2 separate regions of the Homo sapiens genome follow, and region 2 is linked to region 1. The links come from fine-mapping of genetic effects on gene expression. A gene starts in region 1. The other region holds a variant in brackets. All regions are shown on one strand. Distances are between the middles of the regions.

The links.
Region 2: its variant is fine-mapped to the expression of CIMIP2C in thyroid (GTEx, PIP 0.99).

The regions. Positions count from the first base shown.
Region 1 is chr2:26,557,764-26,566,093 of GRCh38, reverse strand. It overlaps CIMIP2C (ciliary microtubule inner protein 2C), which reads right to left and starts at 3,507. Exons shown (of 4, transcript NM_001105519.3): 1 at 3,408-3,507. The coding sequence starts at 3,481. It overlaps OTOF (otoferlin), which reads left to right and starts at 7,338. Exons shown (of 47, transcript NM_194248.3): 1 at 7,338-7,601. The coding sequence starts at 7,523. RefSeq lists a silencer at 3,496-3,635 and enhancers at 3,233-3,733, 6,391-7,183, 7,184-7,977.
Region 2 is chr2:26,538,050-26,546,379 of GRCh38, reverse strand. All of the region lies in intron 1 of OTOF (otoferlin), which reads left to right. Among named protein-coding and RNA genes, the nearest start is that of OTOF, 17 kb to the left of the region's middle. RefSeq lists enhancers at 2,588-3,322, 7,695-8,330. The variant C/A (reference allele first, on the strand shown) is at 4,806.

The DNA of each region.
Region 1 (8,330 bases):
TGAGGAGTGGATGCCACCCAGATCCGACTTGCAAGCAGGAAGCTTGGATCCTCACTGAGGCCAATCTCATCCCTTCAAACCCCTTCAAATCTCAGGGGCTCTGACCCAAGAGCTCCTGCCCACTGCAGGAATAGCACCCAGGCCAGGCGTAGGCAGGCACTGCCTGTGGCAAGGTGCCTAGGAGCTGTGTCCCCAGGAACAGCATGGAACCAAATGGAGCACCCTGGCCGGCGAGGCTGAAGACCAGCTTTGTTATTATTTCATGTTCCCCGGGGTTCCTAGAACCAGATCTTGAACACAGTAGAGATCTAACTAATGATAACAGCTAACAATGATCAAGTGCCAGGCTTTACGCATGTTAACTAACTGAAACCTCTTTAACCTGCACACCGTGATCATCCCCATTGAACAGATAAGGTAGGTGAGGCAGGGGGGATAAGTAACCTGCCCAGGGTAAGGAAGTCATGGAGCCAGGATTCGTACCAGGCAGGCTTGCTCCAGAGTCCATCTCTTACTGTCGACCCCATTCCCTCCCTGCTAAATGAGGGAGGCAGTGTGAAACACCACATGACGGTTGGGGAGATATTGGGGTGAGTTGGGGCGTTGAAGTCACAAAGCCGAGGCTCGGCAACTTGCTGAATGACTTTGGGCAAGCTGCTCATTCCTCATCTGGGTTATTGTGATGATTTTAAAAAAGAAAAAAGGCCAGGCGTGGTGGCTCATGCCTGTAATCCCAGCACTTTGGGAGGCCAAGGCGGGTTGATCATCTGAGGTCAGGAGTTCGAGACCAGCCTGGCCAACATGGCAAAACCCCGCCTGTACTAAAAATACAAAAATTAGCCGGCTGTGGTGGCGCGTGCCTGTAATCCCAGCTACTCAGGAGGCTGAGGTAGGGAGAATTGCTTGAACCCAGGAGGCAGAGGTTGCTGTGAGCCGAGATTGCGCCATTGCACTCCAGCCTGGGCAACAGAGCAAGACTCCATTAAAAAAAGAAGAAGGGGTAGGGGAAGGGGAAGGGGAAGGGGAAGGGGAAGAAGAAGGAGAAGGAGAAGGAGAAGGAGAAGAAGAAGAAGAAGAAAATGTTGTGAAGGGCCCAGCACAGTGCCTGGTACATAGTTGGAGCTCAGACTTAGGAGATCATGGTGTTATTGCCAGGCATTAGGGACCTGGCTCCAGCCCAGCACTTCAATCACCAGCGTGGGGCTCAGGCAAGTCCCCCCACACCTCAGTGACCACATCTGGAACAGGAGGGGACAGGGCTACATGATCTCTGAGGTCCACACCAGCATGAATATTCTCGCCTCTATGAATAAAGCAGGTAAGAGCAGGGTGATGTGAGTGTCAGAAGAGACTGGCTGTGCTTTAAAATCCTGTGATTAGTGTTTGAACAGACACACAAAAATAAGAATTATCCAAGTGTGGTCGGGAATCTTGGGTTCTTTCATTAAGTTAACAGAATTGCCAACGAGGTAGCATTTGGAAACACAAAATGACTCAATTCATCCCTTGCTGATGGGAATCTTTAAGGGGAACACAACCCTTCCAGAAAGATCTAGATGAGAAAGCAGCAGATACGGGCTCAGCTGCTCAAACTAGCCCAGTCCAGGCTTGAAGCCTCATTCATGATCCTCTTATTGCCATTTCTAAATCAATCACAGGACAGGGCGCTCAAGGGAACTGCTGAGAAGTGGCAGGAATAGGAAAGCACCCTGGGGACTGCTTCTGAAACCTGCAGCTCCCACCCCTGCCAAACAGAGTTGGGGAACTGTGGGGCAGGGTTTGCAGGAGCACCAGGCCTTGCCCCTCAGATGGGAAATGTCCAGGAGTCAGACAATAGAAAATTTTCCAACTGGAGACTGTGGGAGGCTTAAGAAAAAAAGTCAATGTATAAAATCAAATCTCATGATGAACACCCAGAATGTGGTGTCAGCACCACAATCCAAGGCTGCAAAAATGGATTTGAACTAAACCTTATGTGTTTACACCACACTAGGGCAGCCCCTCACTTGTTTGTCTTTGTCTTCCCAGCCTCCTAACATAACACCTGGCATGTCCCAAGCACTGACCCACATGAATGTCTTAAATAAAGGAAAACGGGCAAATCCTAAGTCACCTGGCTTGGCTTCGGGAAACTACCATGACCTGGTAAATCAGCTTTGTCTGATGGGAACCCTGGTAGCTTTTGAGCTCCCTCCAAGGCCCAGAGAGAGGTCGCATCCACAAATGGGCTAGGTTAAAACTACAGCACCAGCCCCTGGTTGCTACTTTCTCATGCAGCCTCCAGAAATGATTTGAATGTCACAGCACCTCTGTGTCTAGCTTATTCTGCTTCAAAACAATCTCAACTTCATACCAAATACACTTTTCTTCATGTTGCCATCTGTTCCGATTGCAGGGGAGAGCATGCGGGCTTTTTCACCCATTTGGAGACTCTGCCTGCAGAATCCTCAAGACATTCATTTCATTCATTCGTTCACTCTTTTTTTCAGACAAGGGTTCTTAGGATCATTCATTCATTCTATACAGATTTGCTGATACTGTACAGGTTGCCTCTCAGAATCCAGTGCCTGTTCTCAGTACCTATGCTGACTGGTAGGAGGGATAAAGACAGCCTTACACCCTGGGAGAGGCGGTCCAGAGTAGAAACATCAGACACTGTAGGAGAAAGAGCCAAAGAACAGGAGGCAACAGCCAGACTTGCATGTTAGATGGTTGGAGTCTGAAAATATCCAGAGTAAAGAAAGGTAGGTGTAACCTAGTATTTGAAAGTGCTAAACAGCAAGCCAGCGCTCAGGGCAAGTGGCCAGGAAGCTTTCCAAGAAAAACTTCTGGGAGGATAAAGGGAGGTCTGTGAAAGGACCGACCGCAAAGTCGGGCGGGTACTGCACACATGACCCATTAACTACGGCTCTTCCGGCCTTGCCAGGTTCTTCGAGCGGGCACCCACCCGGTATCCTTCCCTCCTTCAACCAACAAGTACTGACCTTGCCCGAATGCTGGGTGCTGGCCCTGTGCGCCGGACGGAAGGGCCTGATTTTCTCGCATTTTCTCTAAGCGCTGGAGGCTGCCCGCCTGGGGCGTCTCCAAGCACTAAACCCCACGTGGCTCCATCTCCTCCCCCTTCCCCGGCTACATCCATGCGAGGTCCCTTATGCCCTGCTGGCTGTGCCCCACTTGCCAGGGAGCGCCTTCCTGTGAAGGGGAATCTGGGGAGGCCCCCGCCCGTGCCTGCCCACTTCCTACTCTGAAACCACAAACCTCTAGGAAGGCCCCTCGCCCCGTCGGGTGGAAAATTGGCTCCTCGGGGTTCCTTCAACCCCAAAGTCCGGGGGCAGGGGGCTGAATTTCGATCACCGAGGAGGGCGCTAGTGGAAGGGGGAGGGGAGGAGGCGCTCCCTCGGCCTTACCCGGGCATGAGTCCAGGGGGCACGTAGGCGGCATTGAACTCGGTCAGTAGGGTGCCCGCGCTGCGGGAGGCCATGGTGGGTGCGCGAGTACAGCGAGCCTGGCGCTCCGCTCCGCCCCACGGTAAACAGCGGCGGGTCACCTGGCAACGGCCACGGCGGCGAGCCTGGCAACGCCAGCTGGCCCCGCGGTCCTCGCGTTCCGAGACACTGCGCCCCCCTGGCGGCCACCTCCCGGAGCAGCCCCATAGGGCGCGCCCAGAAGGCGCCTCCCATTTCCGCGAGCTCTGCTGGGTGACCCCTGTCACTTGCCCCGGCGCGTCGGGGCTCTCTGCCTTGCTGCCTGCGGGATGTGCAGAGGCTCAGATGCGGGAGGGAGGCAGAACATCGCTGGAGAGGCCTGGCGGGATCCGTCTTGCGGTGACCCGGCTTGGAACGCGACGCTACCACAAAGGACAGGCCAGGTCCTGACTTTGGAGGTCACGCACGAAGCAGCTGCCCCACCGTGGCTCAGGCCCAGAAACCTGAGTGGCCTTAGGGTCCCCAGGAGCTATGTCTCTCCAAGGCTTCCCCTGCACCCCAGCTCCATGGGAGTTCCAGGAAGGGGCTCTGTAGTGGGCCGCGCTGGGCGAGGTTGCCTAGGACGCTGTGTGTAATTGTGTGTGTGCGTGCGTGCGTGCATGTGTGCGTGTGTGTGTGCGCGCCTTGCGAAGAGGAGCATTTTTCATTTTTCTTCTTAATCTCTAGCTGATGGCTTCCTTCTCACCTCATCATACCTGTAAACTACTCCACAAGAGGCAAAAAGAAAATCATAGAACGTCTGGGTGTGTGATTTACATTTGTCCCCAATGCTGCCGTTCATTTTGGGGATGGCATCCGCAGGGGTAGCGCTTGCCCCAGAGAGCAGGCCTGCTGAAGGCCCACCCCCTGTGTAATCCTCCCTGTGACTGCTTCAGCCTCCACATTTGAGTTTCTCCAGGGACCCTTACACCAGCCTTGGTGCCTAGGGCAGGCACAGGGCCTTCGGCTTTTCCATAAGGGGTGAGGGTATGGGGACAGCTTCCACGGTGCCAGGCTCTTGGTGACTCGGGTGGAGGCCCTGCCACCCCAGCTCCCTCTGCAGCAGTCCTGGTGTCATGAAGAAGCCTGGCAGTTCCCACTTTGTCTCCAGGTCTTGCTTCTTCCCTTCAGATGCCGGATGGAGAGCAGTGCTCCCCTCGCACTTCGGTTCTGTAAATGGCAGTGGATGAAGACCGCAGACGCTACTGGGTTCACAGAATGTGGCTGCCACCAGCATTCTCCAAAGACTTCCCCTGGCAAATGCCAATGAAATGAAGGGGAGCCACAGGCTTCCCAGAGGCTCAGGAAGCAGAAACACTGAGGCCTGGTTGGAAAGAGAGCTGTAGGCAAAGGAACGGCTGCAAACAAACTGGGTGGAAGGAAAATCCATCCATCCTTCAGAATGCAGTCATGTCTGTATTTTTCTAAATTCTCATTGGGGAACATGTTCTACAATAAGGAAAACATGAGTCAAAGACCCCCAGCCCTGGTGAGGTTGACCGCCTACTTCCTCCCCCATTCAGGGCTGCCCAGCCAGTCCTGCTGGTAAACCCACCACCCTGCCTTCCACCTGCCTGTGTTCTAGTCCATCTGTCTCGTCTGATTGGGATCCTGTGCCATCCATATCATATTCATCCCTGAATCTCAGCACCTGGCTCTGGAAAGAATTCAGTAAATGTTCATTACATAAATTATATACTCAGTTACCAAAATGGGTAACAGAAGAATGGAAATTAAAAAGTGGGTTCTGGCTGGGAACGGTGGCTCATGCCTGTAATCCCAGCATTTTGGAAGGCCGAGGCAGGCGGATCACTTGAGGTCAGCAGTTTGAGACCAGCCTAGCCAACATGGTGAAACCCCATCTCTACTAAAAATACAAACATTAGCTGGGCATGGTAGCACATGCTTATAGTCTGACCTATTTGGGAGGCTGAGGCAGGAGAATCGCTTGAACCCGGGAGGCAGAGGTTGCAGTGAGCCTAGATCACTCCACTGCCCTCCAGCCTGGGTGACAGAGTGAGACTCTCTCTCAAAAAAAAAAAAAAAAAAAGAGTGGGATCTGTCTCTTAGGTTTTCAGAAAGGCCAGCTGACTCCATTGAGAGCTGCTGAGTGGAATTGCTACCATTTTATGGATGTGGAAAGTGAGATTCAGCATAGATCAATGCCTTGGCTAGGGCAGGATCATGGGCTTTTTCCTAAAGATGCACAGGGTCTATAAGAGGCCTCATGAAATTCACTCCTTTCAGGGGAGGACCTCCAGAGAACCAAGGAAGAAGATATTTTCTGTTGTTGTTGTTGTACCTTGTAGTCACCAAGCCTTAAAAACACAGATCACCTGATGACCTCATGGATGGAAAATGCTAGTGAATTTAGGTGTTTTTTTTTTTAAGACATTAAACTTATCTAGCTTTTGAAAATTTAGCATTCATACTTGTATTCAATAAACAGAATACTCTAAGACATTTTTAAATTCAATATGATTAGATAAATGTGAGAAAGGTAAGCAAGAATTGGTTAGGAAAAAGTGCAAAGGAAAAAAACGTAAGTAGAAAAAGAAAAATAGGGCACAGTAGCAAGGAAATATCTAGAAGGAGGAAAGAAGGCTCTTGGGACATACTGTAGGTTATTTGGAATGCAGAATTCAAAAGAAGTAACCTCTTGTTACCATGCTGTGAAAAATTAGTATTTCTCTTTTTAACCTTTAGACTCTGTTTCAGGTAGATCCCTGAGCTCACTCTTTTATCCTTTCAACAGTAATTGGGCATCCTACGGTGCACAGGATACCATGTGGGGCTCTGGGGTAGAGGGATGCTGTGCTCCAGGGCCCTCCTGAGGTCAGGAGGGGAAAAGGCAAGGGAAGCAGCCCCAGGACTCAGTAAGATGAGAGGAGGCAGGAGCAGCACAGAGGAGGACCCCAACCCAGCTGGGGTGCGGGTACAGAGGCACCTCCAGGAGCAGGCACTCAAGCTGAGTCCAGGGTGGGGTGGAGGGCATTCCACCAAGAATGAATAGCAAGAACAAGGCTGCAGATGACCCTGCACAGATTCCAGCATCAGGGATTCTGGCCCCCAGCGTCCCTTTCCTTGGTGTATGCTGCTGGAAGACAGGAGGGGGCAGTTCTCTTTTGGTCCTTAGAAATTTCCCTATAGACATCCCTTCTCCTGCCCCTAGCAGCTTATAACAGCAGAAGGCCATTCAATTCTGCTCCTCTGGCTGGAAAGCAAACATCAGCCTGGCTTACCTTCGCTAGCCTGCCTGACCCCCAGCCTTGGGGTGGGGCTAGGTTAGTGCCCTGGATCCTTAAACATGGCCCCTGGTAGCACATAAGCCTCTGCTGCCTCCACAACCAGCCATCTCCATCATGCATGGCCTGGTCCTGAGCCTCCCCTCAGGCAGCAGCCCCAGCCTCTCTGCTTCCTGAGATTCAGAAACAGGGATCCCAGGGCAGGGCTCAGGGCCCAGCCTCTTGGGGGCACAGTCTCCAGCAGGGAAGAGGTGGGCGTAGGTGGACAAATACATTCCCTTCTTCTTGTAGTGTGCCCCTGTGGGTGGGAGTGCCCCCCGCCCCACATCCACCCTACCTATGCTCATGCCCACTCCTCTGTGCCCACTACTGGTGGCAGGGCTTGCTTAGCAGGGAAGCAGCAGAGCCCTGCAGAGGGGTGGGCAGAGCCTCCCTTCCAGGAGCTGGGAGAAGACACCTGAAGCTGGACAGAGCTTTATCTGGGAGCCGGCGGCTGCTGAATAATGAATTCCAACTCTGCCGCACTCCCAGGCTGCACATTGGGTGCACACACACACACACACACACGCACACACCGATACACACACGCTGGGCTGACAACTTGGAGGGGCGGGGGCTGTGAGGCTCTGTGAGTCGCTGCAGGAGCAGCTTAGCTCGGCTTGGTTGCCTTGGTCTCTGTGGGCAGCATCGGAGGGGGGTCGGGAGGAGGAGGAGGAGGCAGCGGCAGAGAAGAGAGAGGCGTGTGAGCCGTGCTCCACCGGCTAGCTCCTTCCCGCTGCTCCTGCCTGGCAGTGCCAGGCAGCCCACACCAGCATGGCCTTGCTCATCCACCTCAAGACAGTCTCGGAGCTGCGGGGCAGGGGCGACCGGATCGCCAAAGTGACTTTCCGAGGTAGGGAAGCCGCTGTCTCAGAGGGACGCCAGCTCTGAGAGCTGGACCAGCCCATGCTCTGGAGGTGGCCGGGGATAGGACAGGGCTGGGAGGATGGGTGGGAAAAGTTCTAGCAGGGGCTGGGGCGACGAGCCTTTTCACAGGTAGTCATCTGCCTGGGACTGACTGGCCATTGTGATTTCTGGAAAATCAGGGTCCCCTGTTCTTCCATGCCTGTGTCTCCTTGTGCTTGCCAACATGCCAGTTCCCCGGGCAGGGCACAGAGCCCTCTGCCTGGGGAGGCAGAAGTGAGGACCACATCCCTGAGCTCAGGGAGACCCAGGACCCCCTCCTTCTCTCTCTCTCCCTCTCCTGCAGGTTGATTTCCTTGAGCACAGGGTGGGGGCCGGGTATGGAGCCTGGGGCACCCAGGGTGACTGGGAGAAACCAGGCAGCCAGTAGCTCCCTGGGCCCCAGAGTGATGGGGGACACTGTTGGCTTCTTTTAGATCTATTCATGGGCGGGAACCCCGGGAGCCCCTCGCCTCTCTTCTGTCTGGTCTTTTCTCATCCTTTTCACTCCTGTATTCAGCGACCATTTATTATGATCTACTGTGTCCCAAGGATAGGGGTAGAAACACAGAGCTGAGCACAACCCAGCCCCAGCCCCAAGGAGCCTGCATCTGTTGGGCAGGCGTGGAACAAGCAGGACAGGTATGTGAGACAGAAGGTGGGGGTGCAGCATGCAAGC
Region 2 (8,330 bases), 20 kb after region 1:
AAGCGATTCTCCTTTCTCAGCCTCCCGAGTAGCTGGGATTACAGGCATGCACCATCACTCCCAGCTAATTTTTGTATTTTCAGTAGAGACGAGGTTTCACCATGTTGGTCAGGCTGGTCTCGAACTCCTGACCTCAAGTGATCCACCAGCCTCGGCCTCCTAAAGTGCTGGGATTACAGGCATGAGCCACTTCGCCTGGCCATGGTTTCTCTTCCTTATCTTTTTTCCTAACATTTTCTTTTCTCTAGCTTACTTTATTGTAAAAGTACAGTACATAATACATATACAAAATATGTGTTAATTGGCTGTTTATGTTATCATTAAGGCTTCTGGTTAACAGTAGTCTATTAGTAGCTAAGTTTTTGGGGAGTCAAAATTTATATGCAGCTTTTCAACTATATGAGGGGCTGGTACCTCTAATCCCTGTGTTGTTCAAGGGTCAACTATATTTAATTATAAGTCTAACTATAAAGTTAAAGGAATTAAGAAAGTGTGGCATTGGTCTAAGAATAGACATATAGACCAATGGAGCAGAATAGTGTCCAGAAATAAACTCTGTACATATAAAATCAATTGATTTTCAATCAAGGTGTTGGATATCTAGAACTAGGTATCTATATGGAGAAAAAATGAACTTCAAACTCCTACCTCATACCATCCACAAAAATTAATGTAAGATGGATTATAGAATTAAACATTAAAAACTTATAAGCTTCTAGAAGAAAATATAGAACATCTTTTTTTGTATTCTTGGGTTAGGCAAAGGTTTCTTAAAGAAAAATTTTAAAAGACTAAACATAAGAAATAAATTTCACTAAAAACTTGCATTTCTTAAAAATTGGAAACTCTCTTTGGCTAGTCACAGAGTAAAAAAAATTGAAAACTCCTATTCATAAAAAAATCACATTTAAGAAGGCAAGAGAAGGCAAGTCACACACAGGAAGAAAATATTCACATTTATCTGACAAAGGACTTGTAGCCAGAATATATAAAGAATCCCTATAAGTCAATAATAATAAGACAAATTATGAAATTTTTTATGTAGGCAAAAGACTTGAAGAGACACTCCATAGAATAAGATAGACGTATGGCCAATAAACATGTGAAAATGTGATCAACATCCTGAGTCATTAGAGAAATGAAGATCAAAATTACAAAGAGATATTATTTCACATGCTCTAAAATAGCTAAAATGTAAAAGTCTGACAGTAATCAAATGTTGATGAGGATGGAACAACTGAAATTTTTTTTACATTGCTGATAAGAGTGTGAAATGATGCAATCCCCTTAGAAAACTATTTGGCGATTTCTTTCTTTTCTTTTCTTTTTTTTTTTTTTTGGGATGGCATCTCGTTCTGTCACCCAGGCTGGAGTGCAGTGGTGTGATCTTGGTTCAATGCAACCTTTGCCTCCCGGGTTCAAGCGATTCTCCTGCTTCAGCCTCCCGAGTAGCTGGGACTACAGGTTCGCACCACCACGCCTGGCTAATTTTTTTTTTGTATTTTTAGTAGAGACAGGGTTTCACCGTGTTAGCCATGATGGTCTCCATCTCCTGACCTCATGATCTGCCTGCCTCAGCCTCCCAAAGTGCTGGGATTACAGGCATGAGCCATTGCGCCCGGCCAGCAATTTCTTATAAAGCTAAGGGTACCTATCCTGTGACATAACCATTCTGTTCTTAGGAATTTCCTCAAGAGAAATAAAATTATATTTTCAGAAAAAGACTCACATGAATGTTTACAGCAACTTTGCTCATATAGCCCAACCCTAGAAGCACCCAAAAGTTTATCATCAACAGAGAAATGGACCAAGAAGTTGTGGTATAGGCATGCAACGGGCTATTACTCTACAATAAAAATCAATACATTACTTATATATGCAACAACATGGATGAATCACAAAAACATTACCTTGACCAAAAGAAGCCAGACACACAAAAAGTACATTCTGTAGGATACCTTTTATATGAAGTTTAAAACAGGCAAACTGATCTTTGGTGCTAGAAATCAGAGCACTGGTTACTAAGGGACTAGAAATCGACTGGAAAGGGACATGAGAGAACATGTGGAACAAATGGAAATGTTCTATGTCTTGATTGTGTGGCGGTATACAGGGAAATGCATTTATTGAAACTCATTGAATTTTACACTTAAGATCCATGAATGTAAGTTTCACCTAGTTTTAAAAAAAGAAGAGAGACTCACATCTAAAATACCTAAAACTTGAAAAATATTATATAAGATGAGGAAAAAAATTATTTCTGATTCCATGCTACTAAAAATAAGCTACAAATGTGATTCATAATAGAAGAAGCCATTTTTATATTTAGCACATAACTTAAAGGTCTAAAGGACAAGCAAGCTGGGCGCAGTGGCCCACGCCTATAATCCTAGCATTTTGGGAGGCCAAGGCAGGAGGATCACTTAAAGTCAGGAATTTGAGAACAGCTTGGCCACATGCTGGTGAAACCCTGTCTCTCTAAAAATACAAAAAAAGTTAGCCAGGCATGGTGGCACACGCCTGTAATTCCAGCTACTTAGGAGGCTAATGCAGGAGAGTCACTTGAACCCAGGAGGTGGAGGTTGCAGTGAGCGGAGATTACGCCACTGCACTCCAGCCTGGGTGACAGATCAAGACTCCGTCTCAAAAAAATAAATTCAAAACAAAATAGAATGAAGGAGAAACAAGACTATTTAGTAGACTGAGAATAGCTGTTTCTTATTGAGGGATAAACTGCACCAAATGCTATTGTAAGCATTATTATTTCCTTCATTTTAAGGGTGAGGAAACAAGGGCAAAGAGAAGTTAATTAGCTTCATCCAGGGCACGCAAACTAGGAAGAGGCAGCTGGGATTTGAACTCAGGGACTCTGGCCCAAGAGCCTTAACCTCTATCCCATGCCCCCTCGTGCTTGTAAAGGACTTGATGCTTTACTTAGACTTTCCCACAACAGTTTCTTGTCATCCTCGTGATGGTCCCAGGACACAGGCTGGTCCAGGATAATGACCCCCGGCTAACAGATGGTGAGTCTGAGACCCCAAGGGGTTGGATGGCCAGCTCCCAGGCCTCCAGACCATGGGCCGTTGTGCCGGGCCGCACACCTGAGTGGGCCTGGCTTTTTCCTGCACGCAGGGGTGCTTGGGCCCTGCTTCCTGGTGCTCCATGGGAGTATCTGGCCTTCAAAAGGAACAGATCGATCTGAAGTGGGGAGAGAGAAAATACAGCAGGACCATCACTCAGAGAGTCGCTGTAGAGGAAGAGAGGGAGAGGAGACGCCAGGACATGGGAGCTTTGTGGGAGGGAATGGGACTATTTGCTGAGCTTTGTACAGCCCAGCCCAGGCAGTGCATACAACAAGGCTTTGCTGATTTTAAATAACACAAGGAAATAGCAGCCCCAGGTCTGAGTCACCAGCAGAGTTTTACTCTATTTCTCAGCTCACACAGGGACAATAGCAATGGCAGGCACTGCTGGGAGATAGGCTAGTGGGCTGGGCCCTGGCAAAATCACGACGTCCTTGAAAACAGTCCCAGGACCTTCTCCTTCCCCTTCGGATGGCCCACCACCTCACCCTCTGCCCTTTCGGGACCCCAGCCCCTCTCCAGTCTTGCTTCCACAGGCTGCTCCCTGAGGGCAGACCATTCTTGCTTTTCCCTTCACCATCGGGACTCCCCTGTCCTGTGTCCAGCTCCTTGGAGGCTCTACTCTCTGCTCTACGCTTTCAAACATTTCCTTACACTGTTCTCTCTGCCTGGATTTCCCTCCTTCTCCTTGCTTCCCAGTCTCTCTGAATATCCAGATTTCTTCTGGTCTTCTAGCGTCAATGCGTGTGCCTCTGCAATGCCTCCTTAATCCACTACATTGAGAGTCATTGCTCCTTTTCCTGTGTTCTCACTTTATTTACACTTTTTGCATGCCAATGACAAAATTCTGCCTTGTATCATCGGCAGAATTTTCCATGTCTGATATATCTCCCTCTGGATTGTAATACGCTCTTAAAGGCATCGTTCAGATTCGAATGATCTTAGTACAACTCCCCTCTGTGAAGGCCAAATGGCACACAAGCCAGGAGCTAGAAAGCCCTGGTTGCCTGTGGAAATGAATGAACACACATGGGCTGGCAGCCGTGTCCCTGCACACCTGCCTTTTCTCAGAGGTGTGGCCCTAGCAGGGTAAGCTGTCTGGAAGAGGGAGCTATTTTGTGCAGATGGAACATTTTGTCCCCTTAAATCATGTCCCATGAAAGGCCAGCATGGCATCCTGCTTCTGAAACAAGCACTGAGCTCGTCTCCATTTGGAGAAGATCTGTCGTGTGGGTATTTTTAAATGGTGAAAGGAGAAATGGGTATATCTGATACCATGGCACTTGTTACACTTTAAGCACAGACTCTGTTATTCATACTCCATCTATTGACTCAGGGAGGAGTTTATTTCAAACCAAACAGCTCAGCTATCCCAGGAGCAGCTGCCTCAGAAGGAAGGAGGATGCTGTTCTATTTCCCCCATCGAACCTCCTTCTCACTCGATCCACAACAGCCTTTCCATGCAAGGAAGAGGCTATTTTCTTTCAAGCTTTATTCTCCATTTTCCCTGTGGCAAGAAAGGTGATTGGATATTGGGATTTGTAATGGTTTTATCTGAAAGCCATTTAAAATGAAGCTGGAATGTCAACAAGACTGACGCTGAATGGAGTAGATGTGAAGTGGAAATGAACTTGAAACAAGAGATGGGGTTAGTCATCCCCCTGATCACTTGGAACAGATGATGGAGGTCCCCTGCCTCTGCTCCAGTGAACAGAACAGAAC[C/A]ACTTGAATACTGCCAGCCACTGTTTGTACATACCCTCCTGAAACGGCTCTTCCAAAATGCTGAAGGACATTTTGTTTTCTTAATAATTTGGCCTTTCCACTGTTTCTGTATGATTGATGTGTTTCAGCAAACCTTTTTTAAAAAAGAATATCTACAGGTAAATTTAGCTCATCATGTTTGAGAATATTCACCATCTCTAAATCCCCAGGGCCTAAATCAATGAGGTTTTAGCACATTTTGAAACAGAACCCTGATGTATAAATTCTGCAATGGCTGATTTCACGTATTTTACTTCCTCTCTAACAAAGCTATGGAAAAATGCACAAGCAGGGGAGGGTTTGATCCTCGGTGTTTCCTGCAGATGTGAATCTGACACCACCTTGGAGCAGGGCCCCTCCCCACCTTCTCCCAATCCTCCGCTGGGTTGCTGCATTTTTCACTCCAAGAGACCCCGGAGGACAGCTATATCCGAGGCTTATTAAAATCTTCTAGGATGCAAAGGCCTTTGGTTATTCAGAGCAGCAGGTCTTTAGGGGAAGCCCCCATACACAAACATGCTCAGCTGATTCTCAATTTATATTGTGTGTTACCTGCGGGGAAAATTAAAAGCTCAAACCTCAGGCACTTTCCCTCTCCTCCCTTGATTGCCCGGGGGCTTGTTGTTGAGATATTTCTTGTTGATTTTTTTGTTTTTTATGTCTCTGGCTGGTGCTAAACATTCTTTCTTTCCCATCATGTTTACTTCACATCTCTTTGCCGTATAGATAGCTTCTGCTTTATGGTTTTTTCCTCCTTATCTCAGATGCAGCCAGCCCTTCCCCACCTGCCCCCGCCCCAAAACACACACACGAACACACACCCTTTCAGACTGCATCCACACTCTCTGTTTCAGTGGATCTGACATCAACGACCCCGCCACCCCCGGCCCTCGTCAGAGGGGAGCTCTGCATTGAACTAGGACTAGCTCCTGGGTCATAAAAGTTGCTAGGACCCTGGAGAGCTCTTACTAAACAGATGAGGCCACCACTGACAGAGGAGAGAGGTCAGTTCCCGGAGGGAACGAGCCTGCTTTGCTGAGCCCCCTTCCTTGCCCAGCCCCCAGACCCATCACAGGGAAGGTTCAGAGGAGCTCTGACCCCTCCAGTACCTCCTTGGCCTGACGCCGCTCTAGCCCGGGCTCCCAGGTTTTCTGTAGGGAGAGGAGCACAGTCCGCTCCACCCATGCCATGGGCTTCATCAGTGACAACCCAAACTCACCCCCAAATAGGAATGGCTTCAACCTGGAGACAGCCCTTCAATGAAATGGTTTATGCTGGTGGAGATTTAAAGGTATTCGTCTTTCGGCTGGGCGCGGTGACTCACACCTATAATCCCAGCACTTTGGGAGGCCGAGGTGGGAGATCACTTGAGGCCAGGAATTCGAGACCAGCCTGACCAACATGCGAAACCCCATCTCTACTAAAAGTAAAAAAATTAGCTAGGCACAGTGGCGCATGCCTGTAATCCCAACTACTTGGGAGGCTGAGGCACGAGAATCATTTGAACCCCGGAGGCAGAGTTTGCAGTGAGCCAAGATTACACTACTGCACTCCAGCCTGGGTGACAGAGCAAGACTCTGTCTCAAGACAAACAAAAAGGGTGTTTGTCTTTCAATTGCAAAAATCAAGCATGGTCACTGAAAAAAAATTCAAATTCACATTTCATTTTGTTTTGTTTTGTTTTGTTTGTCTTTCAGCCAGGTGCAGTGGCTCACATCAAAGTATGCTGCTTTCAATATCTTCTCACTCTCCCTCCCCAGGGATAACCACTTTCTTTTTTATTTTATTTATTTAACTTTTTTGAGATGGAGTTTCACTAGTTGCCCAGGCTGGAGTGCAATGGCGCAATCTCGGCCCACCACAACCTCCGCCTCCTGGGTTCAAGCGATTCTCCTGCCTCGGCCTCTTGAGTAGCTGGGATTACAGGCATGTGCCACCACACCCAGCTATTTTTGTATTTTTAGTAGAGACGGGGTTTCTCCATGTTGGTCAAGCAGGTCTCGAACTCCCGACCTCAGGTGATCCGCCCGCCTCGGCCTCCCAAATTGCTGGGATTACAGGCGTGAGCCACTGCGCCCAGGGGGGTAACCACTTTCAGTGGTTTGAGATGTTTGTCTCTTCATAGAAGAAATATATGCATATAGTTTGGGTTTTGGTATTTTTTTTAATTAATGGAGTTCTAATATACATGCTGCCTTTTTTCCCTTACCATGGAATTGACACAGGATAATAAATTAATTCTAAGCAACAAATTTTTCTTTAACCCATCCTGTCTCTAGGTTTCTCCTCACAGAAATTACAACCCCTTCTCTTGTGGTTCCATCCCATCCCTAAAACAGTATTTATCCTCCCTTCTCTGTACCATTACTGTTTCTTGTGCGAAATTGTACCTTGGAGTATGTACTGAATGGTGTTGTACTGGAGGCCTGGCGCGGTGACTCATGCCTGTAATCCCAGCACTTTGGGAGACCAAGGTGGGCGGGTCATTTGAGGTCAAGAGTTCCAGACGAGCCTGGCCAACATGGTGAAACCCCGTCTCTACTAAAAATACAAAAATTAGCTGGGCATGGTGGCGGCGCCTGTAATCCCAGTTACTCAGGAGGCTGAGGCAGGAGAATCGCTTGAACCCAGGAGGCGGAGGTTGCAGTGAGCCGAGATCGTGCCACTGCAATCCAGCCTGGGAACAGAGCAAGACTGCATCTCAAAAAAAAAAAAAAAATGGTGTTTCCCTTGCACTGGTGCCCTGTTGGCTCCTGGCCTCCCTTCTAGACCATCAGCTACCTGTGGGTGGGAGCCTGTGCCTTTGTCATTGGTCCATCCTCTATCCCGAGGCCCCGGGACATGGCCTAGAACATCAGAGACTCCAGCGGCTGTTTCTCAAAGTGAACTGAACTAGCTGGTGTTTCCCACACGATGGAGCCCCCTCGACCTGCCCTCGATTCTCTCCTGACTTATTTCTCCCCACATCTTGGGCCAGTTCCAGCTGGACTAGCAAAGAGGGCAGCTTTACCTCTGTGCTCCCAACATGCCCTAGTGGGTGGCGTATGGATGGGGGAGCCTGGGACAATGTGTGTCCATCTCACACACTCTCTACTTCCCATGCCAGTGGGGAAAGTGGGGGCAGGAATAGAGCCCGGGAGGGAACTGCCAGAGACTGTCTTCTCTGCTAAGGCTGACAGGAAGACGGACAACCATGACAGTGGTGGAAGGGGAAGGCCCTTGGCCCACGGGGAATGGCTGTCTGGAAGCTGACTTGTTGTTGGGGGCCTGGTTTGGGCAGGAACCCCTGGGGTGGCTGCAGAAGGAGGCTGGGCTTCACAGACCCCTGTCGGCAGGCAGGGGCTACGCCCCCTATACTAGGCTTCTGCTCAGGGCAGCAGGGCCCGGAGCCACCAGCAGAGCTGAGGAGGCTGCAGAGGAGGCTGAGAGATCCATGGAGGAAGAACATGGTGGAAAAGAGTGCCTGAGGTCCGCTTCCACGGCCAC